6 separate regions of the Homo sapiens genome follow, and all the other regions are reported to be linked to region 4. The links are microRNA targets in miRTarBase. Many come from high-throughput screens and were not tested one by one. Region 4 holds a microRNA gene; each other region holds the end of a gene's coding sequence.

What was found. Region 4 holds the annotated microRNA hsa-miR-619-5p (GCUGGGAUUACAGGCAUGAGCC, at 2,670-2,691, shown strand). A microRNA usually pairs through its seed, bases 2 to 8, with sites in the 3' UTR of a target mRNA and lowers its output. Matches are read on the target gene's strand: a 7mer-m8 pairs with bases 2 to 8, a 7mer-A1 pairs with bases 2 to 7 and ends in A, and an 8mer does both.
Region 1: miRTarBase lists ZNF554 as a target of hsa-miR-619-5p. The part of its 3' UTR that is shown has no 7-base or 8-base seed match.
Region 2: miRTarBase lists FIG4 as a target of hsa-miR-619-5p. The part of its 3' UTR that is shown has no 7-base or 8-base seed match.
Region 3: the mRNA of ZNF623 is a reported target of hsa-miR-619-5p. The part of its 3' UTR that is shown has no 7-base or 8-base seed match.
Region 5: miRTarBase lists HMGN5 as a target of hsa-miR-619-5p. The part of its 3' UTR that is shown has no 7-base or 8-base seed match.
Region 6: the mRNA of RNF152 is a reported target of hsa-miR-619-5p. Seed matches in the 3' UTR shown: 7mer-m8 at 417-423 and 7mer-A1 at 2,958-2,964.

Annotation. Positions count from the first base shown.
Region 1 is chr19:2,834,445-2,839,520 of GRCh38, reverse strand. ZNF554 (zinc finger protein 554) reads right to left here. Exons shown (of 5, transcript NM_001102651.2): 5 at 2,786-5,076. The coding sequence ends at 4,669. Among named protein-coding and RNA genes, the nearest start is that of ZNF555, 4.5 kb to the left of the region's middle. RefSeq lists a silencer at 5,023-5,076.
Region 2 is chr6:109,824,867-109,829,934 of GRCh38, reverse strand. It overlaps FIG4 (FIG4 phosphoinositide 5-phosphatase), which reads right to left. Exons shown (of 23, transcript NM_014845.6): 23 at 4,509-4,847. The coding sequence ends at 4,670. Among named protein-coding and RNA genes, the nearest start is that of FIG4, 140 kb to the right of the region's middle.
Region 3 is chr8:143,651,110-143,656,185 of GRCh38, reverse strand. It overlaps ZNF623 (zinc finger protein 623), which reads right to left. Exons shown (of 2, transcript NM_001261843.2): 2 at 2,456-5,076. The coding sequence ends at 4,703. Among named protein-coding and RNA genes, the nearest start is that of ZNF623, 18 kb to the right of the region's middle.
Region 4 is chr12:108,834,577-108,839,652 of GRCh38, reverse strand. It overlaps MIR619 (microRNA 619), which reads left to right and starts at 2,647; the gene lies at 2,647-2,745. The region is part of intron 2 of SSH1 (slingshot protein phosphatase 1); the gene reads left to right. RefSeq lists enhancers at 1-598, 1,158-1,287, 592-1,791.
Region 5 is chrX:81,110,271-81,115,339 of GRCh38, forward strand. It overlaps HMGN5 (high mobility group nucleosome binding domain 5), which reads right to left. Exons shown (of 7, transcript NM_030763.3): 7 at 3,429-4,960. The coding sequence ends at 4,379. Among named protein-coding and RNA genes, the nearest start is that of HMGN5, 89 kb to the right of the region's middle.
Region 6 is chr18:61,811,130-61,816,205 of GRCh38, reverse strand. It overlaps RNF152 (ring finger protein 152), which reads left to right. Exons shown (of 2, transcript NM_173557.3): 2 at 1-5,076. The coding sequence ends at 354. Among named protein-coding and RNA genes, the nearest start is that of LINC01544, 65 kb to the right of the region's middle.

The DNA of each region.
Region 1 (5,076 bases), not on the chromosome of region 4:
TTTTTAAATTTTTGGTTTTTTCAGTCTTGCTCTGTCACCCAGGCTGGAGTGCAATGGCAGGATCCCGACTCACTGTAAACTCCACCTCCCGGGTTCAAGTGATTATCGTACCTCAGCCTTCCGAGTAGGTGAGACTACAGACCTGCCCCGCCACACCCAGCTAATTTTTTTGTTTTTTGTTTTTTTGAGACGCAGTTTCGCTCTTGTTGCCCAGGCTGGAGTGCAATGGCGAGATCTCGGCTCACTGCAACCTCTGCCTCCCAGGTTCAAGCGATTCTCCTGGTTCAGCTTCCCGAGTAGCTGGGACTACAGGCACCTGCCATCATGCCTGGCTAATTTTGTATTTTTAGTAGAGACGGGGTTTCTCCGTGGTGGTCGGGCTGGTCTCGAACTCCCAACCTTATGTGATCCACCCGCCTCGGCCTCCCAAAGTGCTGGGATTACAGGTGTGAGCCACCACGCCTGGCCTACTAATTTTTATTTTTTTAGTAGAGATGAGGTTTCACCATGTTGGCCAGGCTGGTCTCAAACTCTTGACCTCAGGTGATCCACCTGCCTCGGACTTGCAAAGTGCTTGGATTACAGGTGTGAGCCACCACACCCAGCCTTCAATTTTTTTTAAAAAAAGGAAAAACGATTGTGATAGGCCTGAAAACACTGAATACACTTAATAGACAGGGGCTGAAAACCAAACACAGTTAATGGTTATTCATTTCAGAAAACTCCATAGCTTAAGTGGTTGTTCAAATTCTGATATTGACATTTCATTTAGAAACAATTTTTAAAATTTATTTTTATCTTTCCTAGGAAGGTTTTACACACTTTTATAAAAATTAATGTTTAGAGGACTGACATAGGAAAGCAGCTTCCAGTTAAAAATAGTGTGCCCGGGCTCGGTGGCTCACGCCTCTAATCCCAGCACTTTGGGAGGCTGAGGTGGGTGGACAACCTGAGGTGAGGAGTTTGAGACCAGCCTGGCCAACATGGTGAAAGCCCCATCTCTAATAAAAATACAAAAAAAATTAGCCGGGCGTGGTGGCGCATGCCTGTAGTCCCAGCTGCTTGGGAGCTGAGGCAGGAGAATCGCTTGAACCCAGAGGCAGAGGTTGCAGTGAGCCGAAATCTCACCATTGCACTCCTGCCTGGGCAACACAGTGAGACTCCATCTCAAAAAATAAAATATAATTGCTGGAGGGAGATAACAAGACTGAAAACAGTACAGTCAGGAGACTTCTAAGTCAACCCTTCTCAAGAATATGCTGGAAGTTACAGATGCTTTCCCCAAAAAACACATCAATGCACCAGCACACAAAGTTGTTCTCAAAGTTGTTCACAGAGCCCCTAAAGAAACTTACTCATCAACCCAATAGGGTCTAGACTGACCATGGATCAAGGATCTCTAAGGAAAAGCAACATGTTCCATTTGGGTGAAAGGAGATCTGACGGGCAACCTCCCTCATTAGCTCAAGGAAAAAGGGAACATTCACAGGAAAGTTAGATGAGTCCTAAGAGAAAATTTGTAAAATTTTTTTGAGACAGGGTCTTGCTTTGTCACTCAGGCTGCAGTGCGGTGGTATGCTCATAGCTCACTGCAGCCTCAGCCTCCTGGGCTCAAGCGGTCCTTCCACCTCAGCCCCCAGAGTAGCTGGGACTACAGGCGTGAGCCACCATGCCTGGCTAATGTTTGTATTTTTTGCAGAGACAGGGTCAATGTTGCCCAGGCTGGTTTTGAACACCTGGGCTCAAGTGATCCTCCCACCTCAGGCTCCCAAAATACTGGGATTGCAGTTGTGAGCCACTACACCCAGCTTTCCAAGAGAACATTTGGAAAACAGTTCCCCTGCTTGGTGGCCTGGCAAATGAGGTGTGGCTTTGTACAGGGTGCTCAAGGTCAAATCCAGAGTCCACTACTTTTTTTTTTTTTTTTTGAGACAGAGTCTCACTGTCACCCAGGCTAGAGTGCAATGGCACCATCTCGGCTCACTGAAACATCAGCTATTCTCATGCCACAGCCTCCTGAATAGCTGGGCCTAGAGGCGTGCACCACGACGCCCAGATTTTTTTTTTTTTTTTTTTTTGAGACAGAGTTTCACTCTTGTTGCCCAGAGCTGGAGTGTAATGGTACTGTCCCAGCTCACAGCAACCTCCACCTCCCGGGTTCAAGCGATTCTCCTGCCTCAGCCTCCGAGTAGCTGGGATTACGGGCATGCACCACCATGCCGGCTAATTTTGTATGTTTAGTAGAGATGCGGTTTCTCCATGTTGGTCAGGCTGGTCTCGAACTCCTGACCTCAGGTGATCCGCCCATCTCGGCCTCCCTAATTTTTGTATTTTTTGGTAGACATGGGGCTTCACCATGTTGGCCAGGCTGGTCTCGAACTCCTGACCTCAAGTGATCCACCCACCTCAGCCTCTCAAAGTGCTGGGATCACAGGTGTGAGCCACTGTGCCCAGCCCAGATTCTACTCCTTTCTAATTGTGTGACCTTGAGCAAATTATTTCCGTTTTGTCTTCTGTAAAATGGAATGTGAATAGTGATTATCTCATGGGGTCGTGAGGGCTAAATGAAGAACCACATGGAAGTACTTGGCTGGTGCTTGGTATACAGTAAGCATCCAATACATGTTCATGACGATAATGCACATCAGCACTCCTGGTCTTGATTTTGCTAGGGACATCTCACAGGCGGGACTTTTCCCAGGCCACCAAAGGTCATTCCACCCTCTATGTCCCAAAGTCTACTATACTATGTCTCTACCATCTAGGTACCCACAGTCTATCCTGACTCATCAATGAGGTTCCGTATCCTTCACAATTTTGGGTGCTATTTGATTTGTATTCATTGTCAAAATGATTATGGCAATACAAAATGAAACGGCAGAAAACACAAAATCACACATAATTGGAACACCCCAATCATTGCGTAAATGATTCATTTCTTCACGTCTCTGTCCAGCCTTTGTCCTTTTGTGAATGGATCAAATTACTAGTACTATTTTGAAGCCCTTGTATTTTTTAAACTTTACCTCCAAAGCGCTTTCCGTCTTAGCATATACTCTGGATCAGCACAGTACTGCAGAAGACAAACGGATCTAGCTAAGTGGCCAATGTGAAACACTGAAACAGAATGCTGAAATAAAGGCCAGGAGCAGTGGTTCACACCTGTAATCCCAGCACGGCGGCTCGCACCCATAATCCCAGCAGGGTGGCTCACACCTGTAATCCCAGCACAGTGGCTCGCGCCCGTAATCCCAGCACAGTGGCTCACGCCCGTAATCCCAGCACGGTGGCTCACACCCGTAATACCAGCACGGTGGCTCACACCCGTAATCCCAGCATGGGCAGCTCACGCCCGTAATCCCAGCACAGTGGCTCACACCCGTAATACCAGCACGGTGGCTCACACCTGTAATACCAGCACTTTGGGAGGCCAAGGTGGGTGGATTGCTTGAGCTCAGGAGTTTGAGACCAGCCTGGGCAACCTGGTGAAAGCCCATCACTACAAAAATACAAAAAAAAAATTTAGCTGGGTGTGGTAGCGGTGCACATGTGTAGTCCCAGCTACCGGAGAGGCTGAGGTGGGAGGATTGCTTGAGTCCAGGAGATGAAGGCTGACTACAGGGAGCTATGATCACGCCACTGCACTTCAGCCTCAGCAACAGAGTGAAAACTCGTCTCATATAAACCCAGAAAAGAATATTAAAATAAAAACAATGAACAATGAAATAAAAAGTAAAGACACAGAAGTAGTTAAGAAACAGAACACCTTTTGTTTAAGCAACTAAATTAACACGTGATGGTTCTTGGCAAGATCCCATCCATGACAGCATTCCCGTCCACCAATCTTTTCCGAAAGTCTGGAGCTTACTGGACGTAGTGTAATGGCAACTCCTCCCACTAAAAGGCCCCGTCAGGCTGGGCACAGCGGCTCATGCTTCTAATCCCAACACTTTGGGAGGCCAAGACAGGAGGATGCTTGACCCCAGGAGTTCAAGACCAGTCTTGGCAATGTAGCAAGACCCCAACTCTATAATTTTTTTTTTTTTTTTGAGACGGAGTCTCGCTCTGTCTCCCAGGCTGGAGTGCAGTGGTGCGATCTCGGCTCACTGCAAGCTCCACCTCCCGGGTTCACACCATTCTCCTGCCTCAGCCTCCTGAGTAGTTGGGACTACAGGCGCCCACCACCACGCCCGGCTACTTTTTTGTATTTTTAGTAGAGACAGGGTTTCACTGTGTTAGCCAGGATGGTCTCGATCTCCTGACCTCATGATCCACCCGCCTCGGCCTCCTAAAGTGTTAGGATTATAGGCATGAGCCACCGCACCCTGCCTCCCACTCTATAATAAATTTAAAAATTTGCTGGGCGTGGTGGTGCACACCTATAGTACTAGCTACCTGGGAGGCTGGGGTGGGAGGATTACTTGAGCCCAGGAAGTTGAAGCTGCAGTGAGGTATGATCACGCCACTGGACTCCAGCCTGGGTGGCAGACTCCATCTCAACAACAACAACAAAATACAAAAATGCCCATTCTCAGAGCTTTCTTATAAGAAGGTGAGAAGGTGACATAAACCCACTTCTTTTCAAATTATCCATCACAACAGGGCAAAAGATAACCACATGTATGTGTCAGAGTACTAAAAAGTGGCTTACAAAGCAGCGTGCAATTGCTAATATCCAATAAGATGTCTGTTCTGGTAGAACGCTTTCCCACAGTCAATGATTTTATAGGTTTTCTGGCTGCTGTGAGTTTTCTGATGTGTGACAAGGGATGAGCTCTGGCTGAAGGCTTTCCCACATTCCTGACACCTGTAGGGTTTCTCTCCAGTGTGAGTTCTCTCGTGCCTCACAAGGGAAGACCTCTGGCTGAAGGCTCTCCCACACTGCTTACATTCATAGGGGTTCTCGCCCGTGTGAGTTCGCTCGTGCTGGTTGAGAGAGGAACGGTCACTGAAGGCCTTTCCACATTCACTGCATTCGTAGGGCTTCTCTCCGGTGTGTGTCCTCTTGTGCAAGATCAGGTAAGAGCTCTGGCAGAAGGATTTCCCACAGTCTTCACATTTATAGGGCTTTTCCCC
Region 2 (5,068 bases), not on the chromosome of region 4:
AAGGAAGGGTATTCCAAAAAAGGAAGAGGAAAGAGAGAATCAGAAATTTCATCTCACTCTCCTGCCCTGACCTAATGACTCTGGGTCAAAGGGAGGGCAGATGGTTGTTGGTGTGGAAAAGGGGCAACCCCCTCAAAAAAGGGATGTGCTAGACAAGATAGGAGATATACACTTGAGCTACTAAGGGTAGCTGCCAGGCACACATAAAAACCTTCTTTCCCCAACACACTTCCAGAAATGTCTTCTTTTAACATGAGCCAAAGTTGCCCACATACAAATTTAATTATGCACCCCCTCCCCATAGGAAACCACCCAGAGAACTATCCAGCTATTGTAACCATAGGTGAGGTCAGGATACCATTGTTCCCAGAGTGCAGGATCTTTAGGATGCACCTGTGTTAGGTATTCTGCCAGCTTGGGACCAGATGGAAAATTTAATCACCAGCCCAATCATCTCTAAGACACAATGACTGGGGGTTAGGGGAGGAACAAGAGAAGAGAACTTTGTTTTCAAATTGTAATTCCCATCTTAAAAGGAAAAATGATGGTGTTAGAGGAGTGCTGGACTTATTTGCTTCTTAGCAGAAAAGAAAATGCAAGTGAAAGCATTTTCCTTGTCTCTGCAACTAACCTTGAGGCAACACCATTTGAGGTTCCTCTCTCCCATTATCCATGCCACGTTTCCCTGGCTTTTGACCAGAATCTTGGTTGCTGCCTAATTTAGCAAATCTGATTTCCTGGCCCTTCTCTTTCTCTATAAACTAAGGCAAGTGGTTTAGTTTTGTAATTTTTTTGTGAAAGAAATCTTCAACCCATGGGGGATCAATTAAGACAACAATTTTTATTTACCAGTTGGATTGCAATTACATTGGTGTTTCCTTGAATGTACTGAAGAAATGAACCCAAAAAAATTCTGTGTATGGGTAGCAAGAGTGAAATGACAGCTTACTATTCTCTATTAGCAAATGACCCTCAACTTCTGAAACGGAAAAGGGAGACTCAAAATTCTGTTAAAGAAAGCTGCTCAAGTGCAGATAGAAAAAACTGACCTATGCTAGGAGCACCTCAGAACCATGCAGTTTCTGAAATAATCCATTGTCTCTTCCAAAGGGAGGGTGATAAGTCTTGAAATAAGGAAAACAGATCATTTTTCCTTCAATAAACGATTCATTTAAGCAATACTTATCTCAACAGAACATATAAAAAATGCTAGGGGGCCAAACCAGAAAAAGAGAATGTATCTTTAAACTGATTTTAAAAGAGCAAAACATGATTTCAAGAAAAAGCATATTCAGGACATAAGAACATCTTTGCCTTCTCTGGCCACTCTAAGCAATCTCATTCTGACCAGCTAACCTCGAAGGCACGTGTGGAGGCAATCGTGAGGCACATTACTTTCCAAAAGGAGAAAATACTTCTGATTCAGCATCTGGTAAATTCTAGGAAGAAGAAAACTCAGTGAGTTGGAGAAAAAAAGCTTTACTGTGAAACATATAATAAGATACAGGACAATTTTCGACTAAAGTTGGAATCTCATTTTCAAGTGGCATCTAATTTATTCACATGTAAGTGAAGAATAAAGTCTATTTGGATTCTAAGTGGAGTCACTTTTCTATGGAGAAATGAACTTCACATAAAATAATTTCCATTTGGATCCACAAAACATAAGATTAAACTCTGAGGACAGAGCACAATCCTATGAATTCTGCCTCATGACAAATGAATGCTTTTCCATGCCAGAACCATTTGTTCAATACATGTGTCCAGTCTTCCCAACAGCATGGCAGGGAGTGTATAAGCTGGAAAAGTCCAACCAAGACGGAAGGATCTCCAGGTTTGACAAAATGATACATGACTTCCTCCGTAGTGGTGGCTAGATTTACATACTAAGTGGCTTTAAGAGACATGCCCCTCCAACCCTATCCTCCACCATCACACACACATACACACACACACACACACACACACACACACACACACGCATACCCTTAGGAAGTTCACATTGTTATTTTAATGTGAATGCTTTGCCCTTGGGTATACAACCAACAAAATTTTATTTCATGGGATCTCGCCATAATTTGCTGAGATTTCAATTTATGACCTACTGTGTCTCCAGATTCATTTAGATTGCCTTATTTAAAGAATTAAAATCTACAATGCCAAGCTGAACTAGGACATCTTCTCCTTTTTCAGTGACTAGGACATGGTGAGCATTAATATATAACCTTGTTCCGAGATGATGCTCAGGTACCAGGTTAGCAAGTGCTGGTGATTATATGTGATCAGTGATCTTTTAGTGAATATTTACGCTGTGCTAGACACCATGCCCAGTGCTTTACAGGTATCTTCTTTCTCTCAGCAACTATCTATACTAGATGAAAAAATTGAGGATTAGAGATGCTAAGTGATTGCTCAAAGACCCACAGCTACTAGTAAGTGATGGAGAGCAAAGCTCCTGCTCTTAACCATATTTGCTTCCCTTTGGGTCTACAAATAAGAGCAGTTTCTATATTTTCCATGACATATTAGCTTTTTAGTACTTTCAGATACGCATTTACTTTGTTTACATGCTCCTTGAGATCACTAACCTTTTTCTAGAGGTTAAATGTTATGTCTGGTTTGCTACCAATTTGTAAAGCCTTCCTTGTATATCCAAAGTTAAGTAATCTGAATGTCAAAAGTAATAGCTCAGATACCACCTTGTTACATCAAAATTGTGTTAACTCTGAAAAGGACATACACGGATGCCTTAAATTGAAAATATCGGGGTGTTGGTGCTGAGGACACCATCACTGTCACCAATACCAACCACTGCCATCATCAACAGCAGCTACCATTGACAGCATCATTTATGTGCCAGGAACCATGGAACCATGGCTGTATGTTTTACATGCAGAGTCTCTTAAGTGCCATAATAAGCCAGTAGAGCAGGGATTATTATCCTCATTTTACAGCTATGGAAAGTTAAGCTCAGGGAGGTTGTGAAAGAAGATCTGGATTTCAGATCTTCTCAAAGAACTTTAAGTTCATTCTTTTCCTAAGTAGGTGGACCTCTAGAAGCCATGTTAAAAATAAATTTTAAAAATGAAGATCAGTGTCTGATCTATAATTGGCACCTCTGCAGCAATTTGGGATTATTCTTTGACTTGGGAAGATTTACGTGAGATCCCACCCCCACACACAACAGCAAGCTATTGTGTTAGATATTCAACCTGCGCCAAGGCAAAATTCCTCTTACCTATTATTTTGTCATTCTCTAATCTTTACTTCATGATGGCATCAATCAAAAATATCTGTCAAATGGGGACTTAACCTTTCTTTGCAATATAAAACCTTCCATAGAATCCCAGCATGTCAGGGTTGGTGATAGCTCACAGGTCATTTTGGCTAACCAGTTTTCCTTCTCCCATTAGAAGGCTTGGCTTTCTTCTCTATATTATTTATGGGGAGGGAGAATGGGACAGTCTGTAACAAAAGTATAGACATAATGAGATCAAATCATTTGTGGTAAACTGTTAGGAAATGCAGAAAGTTGTCCACATTCATGTTTGACTATACAGAGAACAAAACACGTGCTGTGATCAGTCAACACCTGACTGAACACCAAATGTCAAAGTATGTAACGCAGCTGCATGCCACAGGAAGTCAACTGGAATAATAATTTTAACAATTTATTTTGATATAATTTTTTTTTTTGAGACGGGTTTCACTCTTGTTGCCCAGGCTGGAGTGCAATGGCCGATCTTGGCTTACCGCAACCTCCACCTCCCAGGTTCAAGCGATTCTCCTGCCTCAGCCTCCCTAGTAGCTGGGATTACAGGCATGCGCCACCACGCCCGGCTAGTTTTGTAGTTTTAGTAGAGACGAGGTTTCTCCATGTTGGTCAGGCTGGTCTTGAACTCCCGACCTCAGGTGATCCCCCCGCCTCAGCATCCCAAAGTGCTGGGATTACAGGCGTGAGCCACTGTGCCCAGCCTTGATATAATTTTATACTTACAGAAAAGCAGCACGAGTAGCTCAAAGAACTCCTGTTTACTTTTTACCTAGATTTACAAGTTATTAATATTTTGCTCCATTTGATTTATCATTCATTCTTTTTATCCTGAACCACTGGAGAACACTTTTTTGACATCTTGTCCGTTTATCCATAAATATTTCAGCATTTGTTTCCTATAAACAAGGCCTTTTAGAATAATGAAATTTCTGATCAAAATACAAAGTTAACATAGAAGCCACCAGAATAAATGTCAAAATGTTAACTACAAGGAAACAATACTTTGCTTTCACGGATAAAGATAAGAAAAATACTTTGCCTTCATTCCTCACAAGAGAGGAATTTTTTGGCCTGTTTTGCTTACTGGGATGTTCCTAGACCTTGCCATGGTGCCTGGCACACAGCAGGTGCTCAGCAGATACCTGTGAATTTCTTAATGTGATGGTGTGATAGTATATTGACCACATTTGTAAACAAAGTATTTCTAAAATAAAGCAAAGGCAACAACAGCAAATTATCTAGTCATCTTTATTAGCTATAATTTGGAATTTGCAAGTGACAGAAAAGGAGAAAGGCTTCAGACGCAAAGGACTTTTAATAAGTTACCTTTTGAAGATGAGACAAGACAGGTTCTAAGCTAATCAGACGTGTCCACCAGGTGGACCTGCGCTCTTTTCACAGGTAGCGGTTCCTGATGTACTCTCGGTACATGGAGGAGTCCTCTTTTCCTAGGGGCTGCATGATACCTTGGCTGGCCTGGATGTGGGCTTGGAAGATCTCTGTAGATTTTCTGTCTACTCTTGGGGGCTGAACTTCATAGATGTTATCTTGCGAGAAAGCCGAGATGGGTGTTCTATAAAAGATGAATAAAGAGAGGGCTGCATTAAAGAAAATATAAGGAAGGACCACAGGGAGCAGTCTCAGAAGCACTTGAGAGTCGCTGGCATTGAATAAGCAGGCTGACTTTTGACAAGCTGCTGGGATGACCTCCCCAGTCCTTGCGAGGCTGGTTCTCTTCTCTGCCTGGAGGAGAGAGCTGGACCAACACCTCTGGGAGCCTCACCTGATTGCATA
Region 3 (5,076 bases), not on the chromosome of region 4:
AAATGTGAGAGCTGCAAACTGAGAGAAATTAACAGATCTAAATAAATGGGGCAGTACACCATGTTCAACAATTGGAAAACTCAGAATTGTTAAAATGTCATTTCTCCCTAAATTGATCTATAAATCCCAGAAGACTTTCTTTTTGCAGACATTGATAAAAGTTGTTTTTTGAGACAGTTTCACTCTTGGTTGCCCAGGCTAGAGTGCAATGCCACGATCTCAGCTCACTGAAACCTCCACCTCCCAGGTTCAAGCAATTCTCCTGCCTCAGCCTCCCGAGTAGCTGGGATTCTACAGGCGCCTGCCACCACGCCTGGCTAATTTTTTTGTATTTTTAGTAGAGATGGGGTTTCACCATCTTGGCCAGGCTGGTTTTGAACTCCTGACCTCAAGTGATCCGCCTGCCTCGGCCTCCCAAAGTGCTGGGATTATACAGGCATGAGCCACGGGCCTGGCCTGAAGTTGATAGAAGTTGACTTCAAATTTTATACGAAAATGCAAAGGATCTAGAAGTCAAAAAAAAAAAAATGGGAAAAGAACAAAACGGAAGCCCTTCCAATACCTGAGTTCAACTACAGTTGGCCAGGAGTGGTGGCTCACACCTGTAATCCCTTTGGGAGGCTGAGGCAGGAGGATCCCTTGAGGCCAGGAGTTCAAGACCAGCCTGGTCAACATAGTGAGACCCCCATCTCTACAAAAAAATATAAAAAATTAGCAAGATGTGGTGATGCATGCCTACAGTCCCAACTACTTGGGAGGCTAAGGAAAGAGGCTCACTTGAGCCCGGATGTTCGAGGTTACATTAGCTGTGATTGTGCCACTACGCTCCAGCCTGGGCAACAGAATGAGATTTCTGCCTCAAATAAAACTACAGTAATCAATATAGTGTCATATTGGTGTAAAGTTATACACACAAGAAGAATGGTGTCCAGAACAGACCACTTCTATGTCACTTCAGTTTTTACAAACCTGTGAAGACTTGGTCATTGGGAAAGTAGAGTCTCAACAAATAGAACCGAACCAACCAACCACACAGATAAAAAAGTGAATCTTGACCCTTATCACATATGGTACACAAAAATGAACTCAAAATGGATCACAGACTTAAATGTAAAAGGTAAAACTATAAAAGTTCCATAAAAATAAAAAACATAGGAAAAAATCATGTCCTTTGAGTAGGCAAATTTCTTAAACTCAAATTATTATAAAATATCATAAATCATTATTATTATTATCTTGGTTTACTGCAACCTCTGCCTCCTGGGTTCAAGTGATTCTCCTGCCTCAGCCTCCCGAGTAGCAGGGACTACAGGGGTGTGCCACCCGCCCAGATAATTTTTGTATTTTTAGTAGAGACGGGGTTTCACCACGTTGGCCAGGCTGGTCTCAAACTTCTGGCCTCAGGTGATCTGCCTACCTTGGCCTCCCAAAGTGCTGGGATTACAGACATGAGCCACCACACCCAAATCTTTGATAAATTAGGCTTAATAAAAAATATTCAAAAGACACCATTAAGAAAATGAACAGGCAAACCAAACATGAAAATATTCACAATATTTGTCACAAATGGAGACAAAGAATTCTATATATTACATGTATGTTTTTCATGCAGAATATGGAAAGAACTTGAGTCAACAATAAGCATCCCAACTTAAAAACAGGCAAAAGGCACGAACAGACACATCACAAAAGACGACACGGAAAAGCAATAAGCAGATGAAATCATAGACATACATTATTCAGTGGGCAAATACAAATTAAAATCATAAGGAGGCTAGAGTGGATTAAATTTTAAGAGACTGACAATGCCAAGTGTTAGCAAAGATATGGAGCAACTGGAATCTTCCCATAATGTAGTAATAGTGTAAAATGATTCAACCACTACAGAGGGCTGTGTGACAATTTCTTAGGAAGTTAGAAACACGTATTGCAATGGACTGAATGTTTACATCCTTGCACAATTCATGTCAAATTCCTAACCCATAAGATGATATGAGGTGGGGTCTTGGGGAGGGGACAGAATCACAAGGGGAGAGCCCTCATGAATGGGGTAAGCTTGCTAGTCCCTTTCCACCACGTGCAGTCACAGTAAAAAGACATCTACTTAAAAGGAAGCAGGCCCTCACTAGACACCAAATGTTGACACCCTCATCTTGGACTTCCCAGCCTCCAGAACTGTAAAACATAAATTTCTGTTGTTTATAAGCCTCCCAGTTGATGGTATTTTGTTATGGCAGCCTGAATGAACTAAGACACTTACAACACAGCAATTAAAGTCCTAGGTACTTACCCAAGAGAAATAAAAACACATGTGCAAATACATACTTTTACACAAATGCTCATAGTTTTAAGAGCCGAGACTGGAAACCCATTAACACATGGATGAATAAACAAATGATGGCTTATCCACACAATGGAATACTATTCAGCAAGGAGAACTACTGAAACACAAAACAGCTTGGATGAGTCTAAAAACATGCCAAAGTGAGACATCAGACGCAAAAGAACACATAGTAAATGAATCCATTTGTATGAGGCTCTAAACCAAGCAACACTAATCTATGAGGATAGAAAGTGGTTATCTGGGGCTGGAGTGGGCTTAACTAGGAAAAGGCAAAAGGGAACTTCTTTGGGTGACAGAAACGTTTTTGGTTCTGGCGGTGGTGGTTACACAGGTGGTGGTGGTTACACAGGTGTATAGATTTTTCAAAACCTTGTACACTTAAATAGGCGTTTTACTATATGAAAATTGAATCTCAATAAAGTTGATTAAAATGGTCTGGTAAAATCTACATTTGAAACATCTCTAGTAATGCTGATTTTCCAGAAAATGTAGATCTCTTTTTTGAATTATTTGTCCTGAGACGTTCAGGGTTGGTAGTATTTAAGAACTCAAAATATGGCCTCATGAGAAAAAAATTATATCGTTACAAAACTGGACTTTGGGGTTCATGTCCAGATGAAATTCAGAGGTAAAGACTAACAGTTTGGCGAGGCGGCTGTCCACTGTCCATTTACCTCGCCTGCTTTCGAACAGTCCTAGCCAAAAAGCCATCTGTCATGGCTCCATGTTTCTGCAGATTCCTCTCCTGGACCCTATTTTCTTCTTCAGCTGCTCTCTACTGATCTCTGGCCCAGCTGAAATGTCACCTCTTCTGTAAGGCCTTCCCAGCTCTGTGCCACAGCAGGCACCCCCTCACCTGTGCTCCTTCACACCTGAGGGCACATACTTAACTCACCCTACTGTGATCTCCGTCTTCCCCACTACACGGTGGATGACTTCAGGGTAGTGGGTTGCTCATCTGTTTTCCCAACATTGAGGACTATTCCTTATAGATATCAATACATTTTGAAATGACACAATGAGCCAGAGAGCATGGAAAATGACAAGAGCTCAGTTCAACCTCAGAACTGCTACAACAGAAGAGTTACGTAGCGCATTGAGACTGTGCCTTTCGAGTGAGACAGAAAGATACAGACAAGTAAGTAAAGACCTTCTCTTGAGACCTGCCTCCTCCTGTCCCCACTGTTCCAGCTGAGCCAGGTGTCAATGCCCTCCAGATCAAGTAGACAGTTCTGCATGAGCTGTAAGGTGGCACACAGGAGGGCGTGGATGTGCACAGGATATTGCCTGCAACTTCTAAGTAGGAGCAGCAGACAGTAGCAGGGCTGAGAAGATACTTCTAACAGAATCGTAGATTATACTGATACAAAATGAACAAACAACAAAAAAAACAGCCAACAGCTGAAAATTTTTAGAATGGCAGTATAGAAAGGACAAAGCAAGAGAGATGCCAATTACACATAGATTTAGGGGTGTATTTTTTATTGCCCTGTGCTAGACAGTGGACACATGGAAATCAATCAGATATGATCACTGTCCTCAGGAACCCAACAGCATAGTGACAGAGATAGTCTATCACATCATTCTGACATATGCAAGTAAATATAGTAATAGCAGTAATCACTGAGCCACAGAAGTGTGGAGAGTGCTGCCAACTAAGCTTGAGGGAAACACCCATTGACATGATGCCTGAGGCTTGTCTTGAACCATGATTCAGAGTTAATTAGCTGAGAAGAGACCCTTCAACAAGAACAAAGGCGAGAGAGGTAGGAAGCCACGTGGAGCACAGGGAAGATGAAGCAGTCGGTGTTGCTGCAGCATTAACCGTGTGGCAGGAAGTCAGGCAGTGGGAGGCAGGGCTCCAGGACGCAGGAGGCCTTAGGGCACACGATGGGAGGCCTGGAGTTCCTCCTCAGGACAACAGGGAAATGGCTCGGGGTTCATACACGAGTTACCTTTCTTCAACTTAACACATCAAAATGTCCTAGGTAACATTCTCCTAAATCGTAAGATTAGATACACAGTTGTGCTGTAATAAGGGATTTAAGTCAAGGATGGACTCTGCTTAACTGGGGATGAAACTTCTTAAAAACCTTTTCTTGAGACCTGTCTTCTCCCTGCCCCTACTGTTCCAGCTCAGAGTCAGGTGTCAAGCCCTGTGACTCTCCTGAGGACAGTGCTCACAGCTGAGGAGAAGGGCTGAGCCGAGTAGGGCTGCACAGTGGCAGGTGGCACCCACTGCAAAAGCAGCCCCATCCATGACTCACAAAATTCTGACATGTCCAAATCTTAGAAACCACATGAATCCTAATTCCACGCATTTCCAAACATCACTCACTGGGCGGGAAAGTAATTATTTTATAAGTTACCTGTGTGTTCCCCCTTATCTACAGACCTCTCACCCAAATGTATGGGGGCCTTACTCAAGGAGAGTCCCTCTTGGTGAACCCTTTGATTATTTTTAACGTTTGTAGTTGAGTTAAAATCTCTCCCATACTGACTACATTCATAGAGCTTCTCTTCAGTATGAATTTTCTGGTGTTGAAGGAAGTTTGACCTCTGAATAAAGCCTTTCCCACAATAACTGCACACATAGGGCTTTTCTCCAGTGTGAATAATCTGGTGCAGAAGCAGCTTGGAGCTCTGGATGAAGGCTTTCCCACAGTCTTTACATTCGAAGGGCCTGTCCCCAGAGTGGATCTTCTGGTGCTCAGTGAGATGGGCTTTCTGGA
Region 4 (5,076 bases):
AGAAAGACTTTGTTTCAGAGAAGGCTGTTCAAGGTCCTGTGTTAGGAAATGCCTGGTCTCTCCCTGTGCCCACAGAAGTCATTCCTGGTCCAGGCCTGGCACGCACTTGCCAAGAGTCCTCGAGGCGTGTTTCCCCAAATCTGGGCCCCATCAGAATTCCCACAGGAAGGGGCCTTCAGTGTGGTCTGGAAAGAGCCAGGCTGGCTGCAGCATCTGGAAATCACTTGTCACTTCCCCAGTGGCCAGGCCCACCCGTGCCACGCTGTGTCTGTTGCAGCTGGGAGTCTAGGAGTGGCTCTTTAGGTCTGGAGTCAAGGCCACTGACCTGTTGGCTGCCCCTACAGCAAGAAGGCTCCCTAAGGAACCTAATTCCCAGGCCCTGGGGACTCCTGACCAGGCCCCACCTCATGAGATGGAAGGGAAAAGAACCTCTTGTGAAACAATATGGTAATGGAGGTGGTTTTTACTTAGCTATTGGCTTTTTCCATTCAGCCCATGTGTATTTAGTGCCTAAATATGGGTTCTTTGCCAAATGCCAGGGATTCTGTGTGGAGTCAAAAAGAGTCCTTATCCCTCAGGGGTAATGTGTGTTGTATCTACAGTAGTGCCCTCCAAAAAGGATTTGAAACACCTTACAACATTCATAGAGAACAATAGAATGTAACATTAGTGAGAAAATCGGGACACGAAGAAAGCAGAAGAAAATAAGATGAAGTAAGGGGAAGGTTTGTACATGTAATACATGACATAGCATTGGTATGGTTACCAGAATTTGGCCACAGATCTGACTTTGAGTTTCCTGGTAGTCAAAGCAAAGAGAGAAACAAGACCAATCTCTTGATTCTTGGTGTCCTGAAAATACCAGCAGATCAGTTCCTCGGAAGAACTCTTCCTGATAGATACCTGTGGTGTTCACAAGGAAGCCCAGCATAATGGATGGACAAGCAAGTTGTCTTAACAGGGAGAGCTGATGCTGCATGCCTATCCCACCAATTACCCTGGGTATTTGTGGTCTTAAGAGGTGAGGTCAGCAGCAGCACTTGGTGCCAGAGCTGCTGGCCGCCCCAGCACTGAGACAGGATGCTGAGTCACATCCTGCAGGGCTGCGGTATCCTGGCTTCGCGTGCCCTTCACAATAGGAGGCCTGCACGGGCAGGTCAGCCCCTGCTGTTCCAAACATGTGGTCTCCGAGCAGGAAAATGCTAAAATTAGATCTTACGTGGTCCAGAGCCGTGTATGTGAGAGGCCCTCAAAACCTGGACACACACAGACCAGGAAGACCTGGGAGAGCAGAGCTCTTCATCGTTCTCTTCTGCTCTGGGCACGAAACAGGGCCACTTCTGTTCTGGAAAACACGAAGAGGGCAAACAGTGCTGAGGCAGGGAAGGTCTTGCTTGGTGAGGGTAAAACTATGCAAGAGATGAAAGGGCAAAGTCATGAAATATGCCCATACCAGTGATCAGTAAAATCATCTGAAGCTTTTATTACCTACCGATAAAGAAAAATTACAGGTCGTGTTTTACCAAAATCGAATTAAGTGGAGATTTAAAAAATAACTTTAAAAAATTTGGCTGGGTATGGTGGCTCATGCCTATGATCCCAGCACTTTGGGAGACCGAGGTGGGAGGATCTCTTGAGCCTAGGAGTTCAGTACCAGCCCTGGCAGCATAGTGAGACCCTGTCTCTACAAAAAAATTAAAAAATTAGCTGGGGGTGGCAGCACACACCTGTAGTCCCAGCTACTTGGGTGGTTGAGGTGGAAGGATCGCTTGAGCCTGGGAGGTGGAGGCTGTGCTGCGTGAGCCGTGGTCGTCCCACTGCACTCCAGCCTGGGCGACAGAGTAAGACCCTGTCTCAAAGGAAAAAAAAAAAAATTGGTAACTCGAAAACTTGTAATGCTCCCAACACATACAAATGATTAATACTCAAGGTCATGGATACCCCAGATACTCTGACTTGGTCATTACACAGTTTATGCATGTAACAAATACTTACATGTTTTCCATAAATATGTAAAATACTACGTCGATAAAAAATTCTCGTTAATTTTGAGATAATTTCCAGCTTACATAAGAATTGCAAGTACAGTGAAAAGAACTTTCTTTTTTGAACCATTTGAAAGTAATTTGTCAACCTGCTACTCCATTACCCTTGGAATACAGACCAGGGCATTCTCCCACAGAACCGCAACACAGCCATCCACGCGGGACACTGACTCTGATGCATTCCCACCGTCTAGTCCTCTAACCCCATTCAAGAGTCACCATATGTCCCAGCGTTGTCCTTCATAACAAAAGATCCAATTCAGGACTGCCCATTGCATCTAGTTATCCTGTCTCTTGGCTCTCCTGCAGTCTGGAACCTTCCTCAGTCTTTCTTTGACTCTTGTGGCCTGGATTTTATTTTATTTTTTTATTTTTTGAGTTGGAAACTCACTCTGTCGCCCAAGCTGGAGTGCAGCGGTGATATCTCAGCTCGCTGCAACCTCCACCTCCCGGGTTCAAGCGATTCTTGTGCCTTAGCGCCCCAAGTAGCTGGGATTACGGGCATGCTCCACCACGCTCGGCTAATTTTTGTATTTTTAGTAGAGAATAGGGTGTTGCCATGTTGGCCAGGCTGGTCTCGAACCCCTGACCTCAAGTGATCCGCCCACCTCAGCCTCCCAAAATGCTGGGATTACAGGCATGAGCCACTGCGGTCGACCATGACCTGGACATGTTTGTGCCCAGTACTGTCAGTTTGCAGAGTGTCCCTCAGTGTGAGTGTGTCTGATGTTCTTGTGTGATTCCACCGGGCACGTGTATTTGGCTGGAACATCACCCAAGGGATGCTGCGTCCTCGTTGAATCCCATAAGGTGGCACTTGATTTCCTTTTGTCCCACTATGGTGACATTCACTTTGGTCACTAAGGTGGGTTTTACCAGGCTTTTCCACTGTACAGTTATTCTTTTCCCCTTCATCATTCAGAAGCATTCCTTGGAGAGATACTTTAAAATTATGTTAATATCCTGTCTGCCATCAATGTCCGTTTCAATTCTTTGTATTTTTCTGTTTTATTCAGTGGTTTATAATCTGCTCTTAAATTGTTGACATCCTTGCTCAAATTGTCCTTGTGGACAGTTAGGGCCAGTGGGATCTCATCCAGGCTGGCTTCTGTGTCCCTTTGACATGTCCACATCATTCTTTAAGTGCTTTCTTGCTTTCTGGCAACAGATGCTCCCTACCCACCTGTGGAATCAGTCCTTTATCCAAGGGGCTCTGGTTCCTTTTAGTGGAAAATGAAATTTAGGAGCCAAGCTAGGTCTGCTTATTGCTGTTGGGGTGTTGCTAACCACAGGCCTCTCAATGGGCAGAATTAGGGAACATTTGTATGTACGTGCATACACACACACGTGCATCTATATTTATTTCAATAGGTTGAAAACTATGAGTTCAGACTGGTACCTTCAATTCTGATGCAGCACCTTGGGGTTCATTCTAGTTTTGTCTCTCCATATTCATGACTCCCATTGTCCCTGAAATATTAATAAATATTAACATTATGCATATTATATAAACTTAGGTATTATTTATATTATATAGTATATATTTGTTAATATTGATTATATTAATATTAATATAATCGATTATATTAATATAGTTATAATCGATTATATTAATATAGTTATAATCGATTATATTAATATAGTTATAATCGATTATATTAATATAGTTATAATTGATTATATTAATATAGTTATAATTAATTATATTAATATAGTTATAATTAATTAATATAATATGTATATATGCTATATATCATAAATATATTAATTATAAATATTAATATTAACATTAATGTTTAATATTTCATTCCTTGCCTGTGAGCAGTCTCTGTCTCCCTTGCAGCCCCCTCCCTGCACAGATGCCCTTTGCACCCTGCTTGCCAACAGACACCTCAGCTTGGGATCCCACACCCCCTCCCCAACTCAGAAGCTTGCCCTGCCCTTCCCCGCCAAATGGTTTTTAGGTCTGAATTGTTGGGAGGAGAAGTGGACTTTTTTGAGACTGTTTTCCAGAGGTATCAGTTCAGCTGAAAGCCAGTGCCTAAGAGCAGAGGTTTCAGAGTTACACTCCTGCCTTCCCCTTCCTGCTTCCCGGCTCCTTGGTCTCATGAACTTGGGCAGGTGACTTAACCTCCCTGAGCCTCAGTGTTTGTTTGTTTTGTTTTCTGTTTTTTTGTTTTTTTAAGACGGAGTCTTACTCTGTTGCAGTGCTGTGGCACAATCTCGGCTCACTGCAACCTCCATCTCCTGGGTTCGAGTGATTCTTGTGCCTCCCAATAGCTGGGATTACAGGAGCACGACACCACGCTCGGCTAATTGAGCCTCAGTTCCCGTATGTATAAAACACTGAGAGATGGACACTGGGGAATAAATGAGTTAACATACCTGATGTGCTTAGCATAGCGCTCAACGAAGATGTTATTGGTGTTACATTTATTGATGTCCACTGTTTTCTGGGCACTGAGAGGGATCCTGAGACAGAGAAGTCATAGGCCTAGCTCTCCAGACACTCAAGGTGATGTGGGGAACTTAGCTGCTGTTGTGTTATTTGAAGCACTCAGTTGTCAGGAAGACCTGACCTGACCTCCAGGTGGCTTTAACTCGCACGTGGCATGATGCTGTGAGTCTTATTTGCCAGGTTCAACCTGTGTGTGGGGAGTGCCCAGTGTGCCCAGGGCACAGAGATGACCAGGGTGAGTTACTCCTGGAATACTGACTTCAGAGAAGAGCACAGCTTGGCCAGTGTATCTACCAGCACTTACTTTCAATCTACTGTATGTCAAGCACAGAGGGAGATTTAAAAAGCATGTGCATCCTGGCCCTCACATCCCATTGTGAAGTTAAAATATACTGGCAGGAAGATGGCTTCACCACTAGTTAGTAAATAAGTGGGTCAGGGAACACGATTTGGAAATGAGGGAACTTGGGTTCCTAGGTTCCTATCACTAAGGGTGGTCTTTCCTTCAGTATCCAAGGGGATTGGTTTCAGGACCCCCGCCTTTGCCGAGGATAACAAAATCCATGGATGCTT
Region 5 (5,069 bases), not on the chromosome of region 4:
TTTAAGGAACAATAAACGATAAACAGAATCATACTTTCGCATCTAATTACAATATGACTTCTGAGGTTATTCCCATTAGAAAACTGTTGACTCTGAGGAATGCCTCCCTACCAGACAAAATAAAGCTTAGGGGTAAACACTTTATAGTGTCACCAGAAAATTTTAGATTAAAACTTCAGCAGTATATACTCAGAAAATCAATTATTGTCTAAGTCAGCATTATATGTTACTGAAAACTTATGTTGCAAATGAGACAATTAAAAAAATATGTCTCATATTACTAAAGAGGCACCAAAAGTCCTTTTTCAACAACTTTTCCGTGTGGTGCTCCTTATAGATTTTTTGGTACCATTGGCTATTTCTCTCCAACCTTGGTAAAGAGTGTTCTACTACAGTAGATTTGTAATGTACATTCACTTTCACTTACAGTGATGGTGTACTGTTTTTATAAATTACCACCACTCCTACCCCACTCTTCCCTCCACATCTTGCAGTTGCTGAGGCTTTTAGGAGAGAAACTGTGTGAGGCAATGTTTGGATGGTAAAGGGAAAGTAGAATCCAATTAAACATCAAGAGACAAAATAAGACCTGAGGAAGAAAGGTTACTTTTGTAATAATATAGTATGAAGAAATGACCCTGTTTTAGTATATTACAGTATTCTTGCTATATAAGGGCTTTATCATGTAGTTAAAATAACATTGCACAGGGAAGCTGACTACCCTCCTTCTGTAGAAAGCAAGCTTTCACATGAAAACTCAAGATAATCCATTACCACAGTTCTGCTAGAAACCTGGAATATGTTTCTAAAGAGGAAGCCAAGATCGTTATTTTCATTTCGCATTGATAACGAATGGCATCAAGGTGTTTAAGAGACTAGTTTCTCTGTTGAATGTTATATGAATCCATTCTCTGTGGTTGCACAATGTGGCTAGGAAGCAGGGGATCCAAGCAAGGTGCCTAGAAGTTCAACCTGATCTTTGGGGTTGGTTTTGATAACTGTAGCATTGTACAAAGTTTGAGAGAGGGTGTAAAATGGTAAAGGACTTGCCAGCCCAGGAAAAAGTAGAGTCAGAGGTCTGTGTTTCGAAAGTTAGACCTCTTGCATTTTGCGTATTTCCTTTTTTATTCTTAATATTGTGAAGTCTTTTTAAAGCCAGGACAATTAGGCAAGAAAAATAAAGTCATCAAAATTGGACAGGAAGAAGTAAAACTATCTCCACAGATGTCATAATTGTAAAATAGAAAACCTTGAAAATTCCACAAAATGCCTATTACAGCTAATAAACAAGTTCAGCCAAATTGCAGAATACAAGATTAGTATACAAAAATCAGTTGCATTTCTATACCCTCCCAATGAATGATTCAAAATGGAAATTAAGAATTTCACTTACACCAGCAAAGATTAATAGGAATAAATTTAACCAAGGAAGTGGTGGGAGTCTTGTACACCAAAAAATACAAATTATTGCTGAAAGAAATGAAAGAGAACCTAAATAAACGGAAAGACATACTGTGTTCATGGATTGGAAGATTTAGTATTGTTAAAATGGCAATATTCCCCAAGTGGATCTGCATATTAATTGCAACCCCAGTCAAAACACCAACTGCTCCCTGCCTTGTTTTTGCAGAAATGGACAAGCTAATCCTAAAATTTATGTGGAATTGCAAGAGACCTGAAGTAATGAGCAAAGTTGGAGAACTGACACTTCTGATGTCAAACTTACTGTAATACTACAGTAATCAAAATTTTTGTACTGACAAAGATTGACATGGGTCAATGTTGCAAAATTCAGGGTCCAGAAATAAACCCATACATCTGTGGTTTATTGATTTTGACACAGGTGCCAAGGCCATTGAATGGGGAAAGAATAGTGTTTTTCAATAAATGATACTTGGGCAAATGGATAGCCAAATGTAAATGAGTGAAAATTGATCCCTACTTCACTTCATATACAAAAATTAACACAAAATGTACCAAAGACCTAAATGTATGAGAAAAAAGTATACAACTCTTAGAAGAAAACATATGTGTACATCTTAGTAACCCAGGGTTTGACAAAATTCTTAGATATACCACCAAAAATATAAGCTATAAAAGAAAAAAATGAATTGATCATAAAAATTAAAAATTTGTGTATCAAAGGACACTATCAAGAAAACGAAAACCACAGAATGGGAGAAAAATATTGCAAATCATATATCTGACAAGGGACTTGTATGTAAAAGATATACATATCTTAGAACTCAATGCTAAAGAGACAACCCAATTAAATAATGGAAAATGATTTGCATAGACATTTCTCCAAAGAAGATATACAAATGACCAACCAGCACATCAGAAGATGCTCAACATCATTAGAGAAATACAAATCAAGATCATATGATTTGCATCACCTCCAAATCACCCTACTAGAATGGCTGTAATAAAAAACATGCAATAAGTGTTAGCAAGGACGTGGAGAAATTAGAACACTCATAAATTTCTAGTAGAAATATAAAATGCTGAAGCCACTTTGGAAAAGTCCAAAAGTTCCTCAAAAATTTATGCATAGAACTATTATAAGATCCAATAGCTTCACTCCTAGATATATACTCAGAAGAAATGAGAAAATACATCCACAAAAAAAACTTGCACAATAATGTTCACAGCATTATTGTTTATAATTGAAAAAACATGGAGAAAACCCAAATGCCCATCAACAAACATAATGTGGTATATTAACAGAATATTATTCAGGCATTAGAAGAAATAAAGTACAGTAAGTCCTCACTTAACATCGTTGACAGATTTTTAGAAACTGTAATTTTAAGTTAAGCGACACATAAGGAAACCAATTTTACCAACAGGCTAATTGAAATAGATAAGAGTTAAGTTCCTACCAAATATTTCTGGTTACAGCATCACCAAACTTCTAAAGACTAAAATACTTCTAATATTAAACACTGAAATAAATATAAGCTATGCATAGAATTAAGAACAATAAGAACAAGATAATTATTTACATGCTTATTCCAGTTTACAGTAGTGGATCGCTGCAGCCTATTTTAGCAGCTCAGAAGGCAAGGCGGGAACCCATCCTAGACAGGACTCCAGTCCATCACAGGGAACACACACACACACACACACACACACACACACACACACTCATACTGGGATCATTTAGGCATGCCAGTTAACCTAAAATGCACTTCTTTGGGATGTACGAGGAAACTGAACTACCTGGAGAAAACTCATGAAGACATGGTGAGAACTTGCAAACTCCACAAACAGTGGCCCCAGCTGGGAATCTATTTTCTCATCAAAATTATAACCAAACAGCATTGAACAAAATTGAGACCTGCTGTAATGATACAAATTACAATGGAGATTGACCTGAAAACGTTTTGCTAAGTTAAAGAAGCCAGATACCAAAGGCCACACACATATTATGTGATTCCATTTATAATAAATGTTCAGAATAGGCAAATCCATAGAGATAGAAGGCAGATTAGTGGTTGCCAAGGGATGGAGGTGGGGGATAAGTTGGGCGAAAATGGGAAGAGACTGCTAATTGGTGCTTTGTTTCTTATTTGGGTGATAAAAATTCTCTGGAATTAAACAGTGGACACAACATTGTGAATATACTGACAACCATTGAATTATATACTTTATTTTTATTATAATTAAAATGGTGAATTTTACTTTATATTAATTTTATGTCAGTGAATATTAAATATTTTCATGAATAACACAATAGAAAAAAATTAAGCACAATATTTCACTAGCTATATTTTTGAAGATATAACAAAACACAATCATCGTCAGAGTCTTTTTATTAAGATAAATCCAGTAAAATTTGTGTATTCACATATAATCAAAACTGCCCTTCTGAAATAAACATTTGTATTTATTTTAAAAATGGGAATACAATTTCATTTTTCCCAAGCTAATAATAAAGTTATATTTGGGAAAGATAAGTTTAACTCTTAACATTACATGAAAATAGTTCACCTTCTTTATAAAAGCAACCTGCAGAACAAGAATGTTGGATGAAACTCTTTTTTTGGGATCCCTCACTTTATGAAATTATCACATGTATAAAAGAGTAAAATTAAAATTCAAAGATTTGACATATAACTTACACAACACGAAATTCACTCACAAAGTTGAAAGCATATTTTTTTCTATGTATTCCACTACTATAATCACAAAATTTATAGATAAATGTTTCATGTTAGAAACTTTATGGCTAATAATCAATATGAAGATGTTCTGAAATTAAATCAATGCTAAAGAAAGGCTGTGTTTATAAAATTTTTGATAAAAATATTTATCTCTATTAACTTTACAACATGAAGGTACATGTTACCAAATTATGAAACTACATAGGGCAGTTTTAAACAATACTCTGTGGCTCCTCTTTTTTTCCATCATCTTCTTTGATCTCATCTTCCTCTTTTCCTTCTTCCTCTTCTTTTAAATCTTCTTTCTCTTTTCCAGCTTCTTCCTCATTTCCACCTTCATCTTCTTTTCCATCTTCTCTCTCTTTTTCATCTTCTTTGACTTTTACATCTTTCCCCTCTTTTTTATCTCCCTTCTCTTTTCCATCTTCATTCTCTTTTCCATCTCCTGTTTCTTTTCTGTCTTCTTCCTCTTTTTCATCTTCTCCTTTCTCTTTTCCATCTTCTCCATTTCCTTTTCCGTCTTCACCTTTTTTTCCATCTTCTTTCTCTTTTGCATCTTCTCCTTTCTCATTTCCATTTTTATCCTCTTTTCCATCTTCTTCCCCTTTTTCATCTTTGTCTTCTTTTCCAGCTTCCCCTTTCTCTTCGTTTTGATCTTCTTCATCTTCTTTCTGATCTTCTTCTTCATTTTTTACTTCTGCTGCCACTGCTTCTTTCTTTTCTCCTCCCTTTTCTGTGGCATCTTCAATATTTTCTTCTTTTACTTCCACAATTTCTTTTTCAGAAGCTGGTGCCTGTAAGTATAGTGAAAAGAAAAACAAGATTCTGTCTGTAAATTTAGAACCATTTCCCCTAAATATTTACACTGGATTATATCTATTTCACAGAAAGACTAATACTTCA
Region 6 (5,076 bases), not on the chromosome of region 4:
CACACCCCGGTCTTCATCAAACTTCCCAGCAATGGGTGCTACATGCTGCCCCTGCCCATCTCCAAGGAGCGTGCGCTGCTGCCCGGAGACATGGGCTGCCGCCTGCTGCCCGGGAGCCAGCAGAAGTCCGTCACCGTGGTGACCATCCCTGCTGAACAGCAGCCTCTGCAAGGTGGGGCTCCCCAGGAGGCGGTGGAGGAGGAGCAGGACAGGCGGGGCGTGGTGAAAAGCTCCACCTGGTCGGGGGTGTGCACTGTCATCTTGGTGGCTTGCGTCTTGGTCTTCCTCCTCGGCATCGTGCTTCACAACATGTCTTGCATTTCTAAGCGCTTCACTGTGATATCCTGTGGCTGAAGAGGGCTGCAGGGAAGTCTCTTGTGGGTGCCAACTTAGGGGTTGAGCAGGTTGATGATGAGATCCCAGTGAGAAGATGGGGGGCAACACTGACCATTTGGTGCTGAGCGCTGGCCTCTGGGTTGCCTCTTGATTACCCCAAGACAGACACAAAGGGCAGAAGGTGCGGTCTCAACAAGATACCAGGTGAATTGTTCTGAGTGTTGATGGCAACAGCTTGGAAGATGATTGCATGCATCCTCATAATCATGTATTCAATGGACTGTAATTTATGATTTTTCAAAATCATGTTACAAGATAGACATATTCTACTTAGACGTTAAACTGTACAAGTGCGTACAATGTGACCTTCTCTAAATGCGGTAGATTCAAACAAAGATGCTCTGTAGACAAGTAGAATTAAACCTGCGAATCCGTGTAAAAATTCAGTGAAGACATGCACTGCTGGCTTCTTTATTTTTTTTTTCTTTTTATTGAAACCCAGTCTTCATTTAGTTGCTAAGGCTTTTAATACATTTTGAATGGCACCAAAACAAAATAAGTCAAAATGGACAGTCATTTTATTTGGAGGAAATATTTGAACAAGTGTCTCCAATGTGTTGTGTTTTGTCATGAACCTTCATTTTCTTCACTTGTAATTAGAGCTTGCTACGTGTTTATGGAACTGAAAGCTCAACAGGGGAGCAATAAACCGAGAAATCATGAGAAATGTCTAATCCCATGGGAAAACCTGTATGCCGATTTTCCTCAAGCCATCTCACAAAATAAGAATTTCAAATGTAAATATTGTGTATTTGTGTGTGTATGTGTGTGTGTCTAATTTGATTTACCTCAGGTGTTTGAGTCTTTGCTGAAGAATCCTGGGATGAAGACTTCATTGGGCATGAATGAGTCAAGTCTCTGAAGCGGTGGCCACTTCTTGGACATCTTGACCCAGCGAGTGGTCTCCTACACGTCACCTGCAACACTCGCTCCTCTTCTGTGTATTTAAGTCCTGCATTTTGTAAGAGGCAAATGGAGAGTAACAGAAGAGTGTCTTTTCTCCTGGTTTTGGAGTCTTGCACTGGCCATGAGTGTTGTGACTGATGGTCAACCCAGGCGGGCATTTTAATAAATGGCCTGTGATTCTTTTTTGAAAGATGCTCTTCCACAAGAGTTAAGCCAGTTAGAATTCCTGTTTCCTCTTGTTGATATGAGAGAAGATCTCCTGTATTTTAACACGTTTTTACCAAGAAAGGTGGCAAGGTAAACTAACAGCTCAAATTCCCAATATAAGTGGACCAGTTCCTCATAAACTGTCAAATGTTCTTAAATGTGTAATGATCTATAGATGCTCATGAAGAAAGATCTGCTACAAGTACGTGATAAATTCCTATCCCTGGGTGCATGTGCATTCAGAAATAGCTGTGAGCTTTACAGCTCTCATCTAACTTCTTTTATGGAATTCATGAAGCAAGTGGTATGTGACAAGGACTCCACTTATAAATATAACTGTTTTTATGTTCCACTGAATCCCTGAAAATGGTGAGGAGGGTGGGGGGAAGTGAAGGAAAGACAAGCAGGGCTAATTCCAAAAAGCAAGGCTAGAAAATAGCCCTGTGAGGTCAAGACAATTTAATTTATTTACATGCTGTCTGTTATCTTCAAGCAGCACAAAATATGCATATAAAAGTGATGGAATTAATGTGAAATAAAACAAAAATATAATGGCTAGAATACAAAGCTAATACTGCTAATTGGCATGAGAATTCAACATAAAATTGTGAGCTCTGATTTTTCAAATTGATCATAAAACCTTTAGGAAATGTATTTGAAAGCTCAAAATAGAAATTAGGTTAAAATGCCATTTTATTGTGTAAGCTCTTGGGCATTATACAACAAATAATCTAGGATTTATTTGGTATTAATAATTTAGGTGTCATATTAGCTGAATACTATCCTCTATTACATAACATAATATACTGTTGGGTTAGTGTCAATTTCTCAAACTCTCCCAGGCTGCCATAATGCATGTCTGACCTAATTTCTATTTCTCTTGGAGGAAAATACACACACACACACACCACAGAAGTGTTGCATTAAGAATGCTACATTTCGAATAGACTTTGCCCTTGCAATTTTAAGCTATGCCATATTCAGATTAATTTTGTGAGTGATATCTGCATATGTTTCTGTACAGTGTGAAATGACTGACCCTGTAGTATAGTACGTGATAGAGTTCTACTTGTTAAAGTAGGTTAGATATAGACACTAATGTGTGTGATGATAGTGTCCTGTGTTTCTTAGTGCAAATCTGTAGAGTAAAAATGTCCATAGAACTTTTACTTAAAAACAATCCCATGCTAGAGTTGCCATTAAGCAGTGCAAAATTAATCGGCTGTATGGTAGATTCTTGACCTTAAATTTAACAACAACAACCAAAATCAGATTTTTTTTGTGAGTCTTACTGACCTAAGAAACATTGTTTAAATTGTTTAAATGGATCTGCTTGCAGTTATTTGTGTACCTGTTTGTTGGGGTGTGCATTCTTGTGTATGTGTGTGTGTGTGTGTGTGTGTGTGTGTGTGTGTGTGAGAGAGAGAGAGAGAGAGAGAATCTCAGTCTCCCAGATAGAATTTTATAGGCTTAATGATGTTTTAATGTTGCTTGGCATCCCATTGCTCTGGCCTCTTCTGGCATTTACCAATGACCCTTAACAAACACATCTACCCATGTGACCAAAGTCCACTGACACAAGAGGCCAGGATTCATACTTGCACATTAATGAAAAGTCACAACTGGAAAGCACAGAAAGAGCTGAAAGCAGCCTCCGGTGGCTTCATTTTGTAGATGAGTCCGTTTTGTAATTCTGCAGAAAGGGGGGGATATGAACTTCGCACTGCAGTGTCTTCTTGCTCCATCCTAGGTCTGTCTATATCTCTATCTGGCTATGATCCTTTCTAGGGTTGATGAATACCCTTTACTGAGTCAACTATTGCTTTAAAGAATTTTTTTTGTAGGTTTATGTACTCATTTTAGTTAGCATCTACCTCTCTGGGAAAATGAAAGGAGGGTTGACTTAGGGATGAGTATAGATGTTGAAAGACAACTATCAAACCATGTGGTTTGAATTTTTAAAATTGTAAAACATTGGTGTCCAAACCTCCCACCCCACTTGTATGTAAAGGACAGTGAGTGTTGTATAAATAGTAAACTATAAGAAGCATGAATTTTCATCTTTATTAATGATCTTGAAATAAGGAAGAGAATGCTTAATATGTTAAGTAGAGCCAAGAATGCTACTAAGAAGCATTGTCTTTGGAAAAATTTTGTATAATGACTTGGGGCATAAGTTGTGATGAAAAGGCAACTTGGTTTTTGGTTCCAGTCATACTTAATGATCAGAAAGCTCTAAGATGTTTTCTTTAAAAATAGAATTAAGTTTAATTTTTTGCATGGCTTACAGATTGGGTCCCTTGAAGGTTAAACCATGTGATGGTATAACCTGTGAGATCTTCTAGATTGGCACTGTTCAATAGGGCTTTCTGTGATGATGGAAATGCTCGAAAACCTGTGCCGTCTGGTACGGTAGCCACCAGGCACATTGACTTTTAGGCAGTTAAAATGGGGTTACTACAAGGGAAGAACTGGATTTCAAATTTTATTTAATTTTAATTAGCTTAAATTTAAATAGCCCTATGTGTCTAGTGGCTGCCATATTGAACGATGCAGTTCTGGGTGATAGCGCTTGGGGATCCAGCATCAAGGTATTAATGGAGTAACAGTGAGGCTAAGGTGAGAGTTTGTGGGCTAGTGACATGCAGTTGGCAAAAGGCAAAACATTCCTTTCTGGGCTTAAAAAGTATGTGATCTCAAGTATGACAGTAAAAATTCATTGTTGCCCTTTGGAACTGTTGCTTATAGATTTTAGGCCAAGGAATGATCAGTGAAGCTTAAAGAATGCTTTATTAAGCCCCTTTTCTGGGATCATTAGCTGCATGTTAACCTATTGTCCAAAAATAGTAGTTAGACAGTACCTGTAAAACGTTTGACTTGCAAGCTATGCATGATCTGTACTGTGAAATTGTGTCTAGGGTCTTGTGGCCAAAAAGTAAATGTTACAGGAAAAAAAAAGCCTAATGAAATCCCTGTTCACTTCCAGTATCCTATCCAAACTTCATTGCTGTATTAGTAAGGTGCAAATATAAGAGCAAGCATGTTTTGCAGTGTTCAGACTGGTTTTGTTTGCCCTTGAAGTTGGCCAGCTTGTCGTTGTATTTGGTGTGGGCATATGTGGGCATCATTTTTCAGATGCCAAACTAAAATGTAGGTAGTATTTTTAGAATGAGATTTGACATTGTTTTAGTGTCTTTCTTTTTTAAGCAAAAATTTCAGTTATCCCTGAAAGAGTTGAAGATTTGAAGCTTTGCACAAAAGCACTTTTTTTAACAGTAAAAAATACTGCCCATGAAATTTAAAGACTTGAAGTTTACTAAAGCTACAATAATTACTTTTTAGCTAAATAAAAGGAAGCAGAAAATTCAGTTTGAGATATATTTCCTATAAAGACCAGATTCTTACTGATAATCTGGTATTTATTCCAGTCTAGATTTTGATTTTAAGAGTTCCCATCCCTTTATTTGAAAACTTATGTTGTTTCAAAATTGGTTAGTCTGCTTTTCATTGTTTTCCAAATGGAATATATACAAAATACATTTACTTCATTTTAGCAGAAATGGGTTG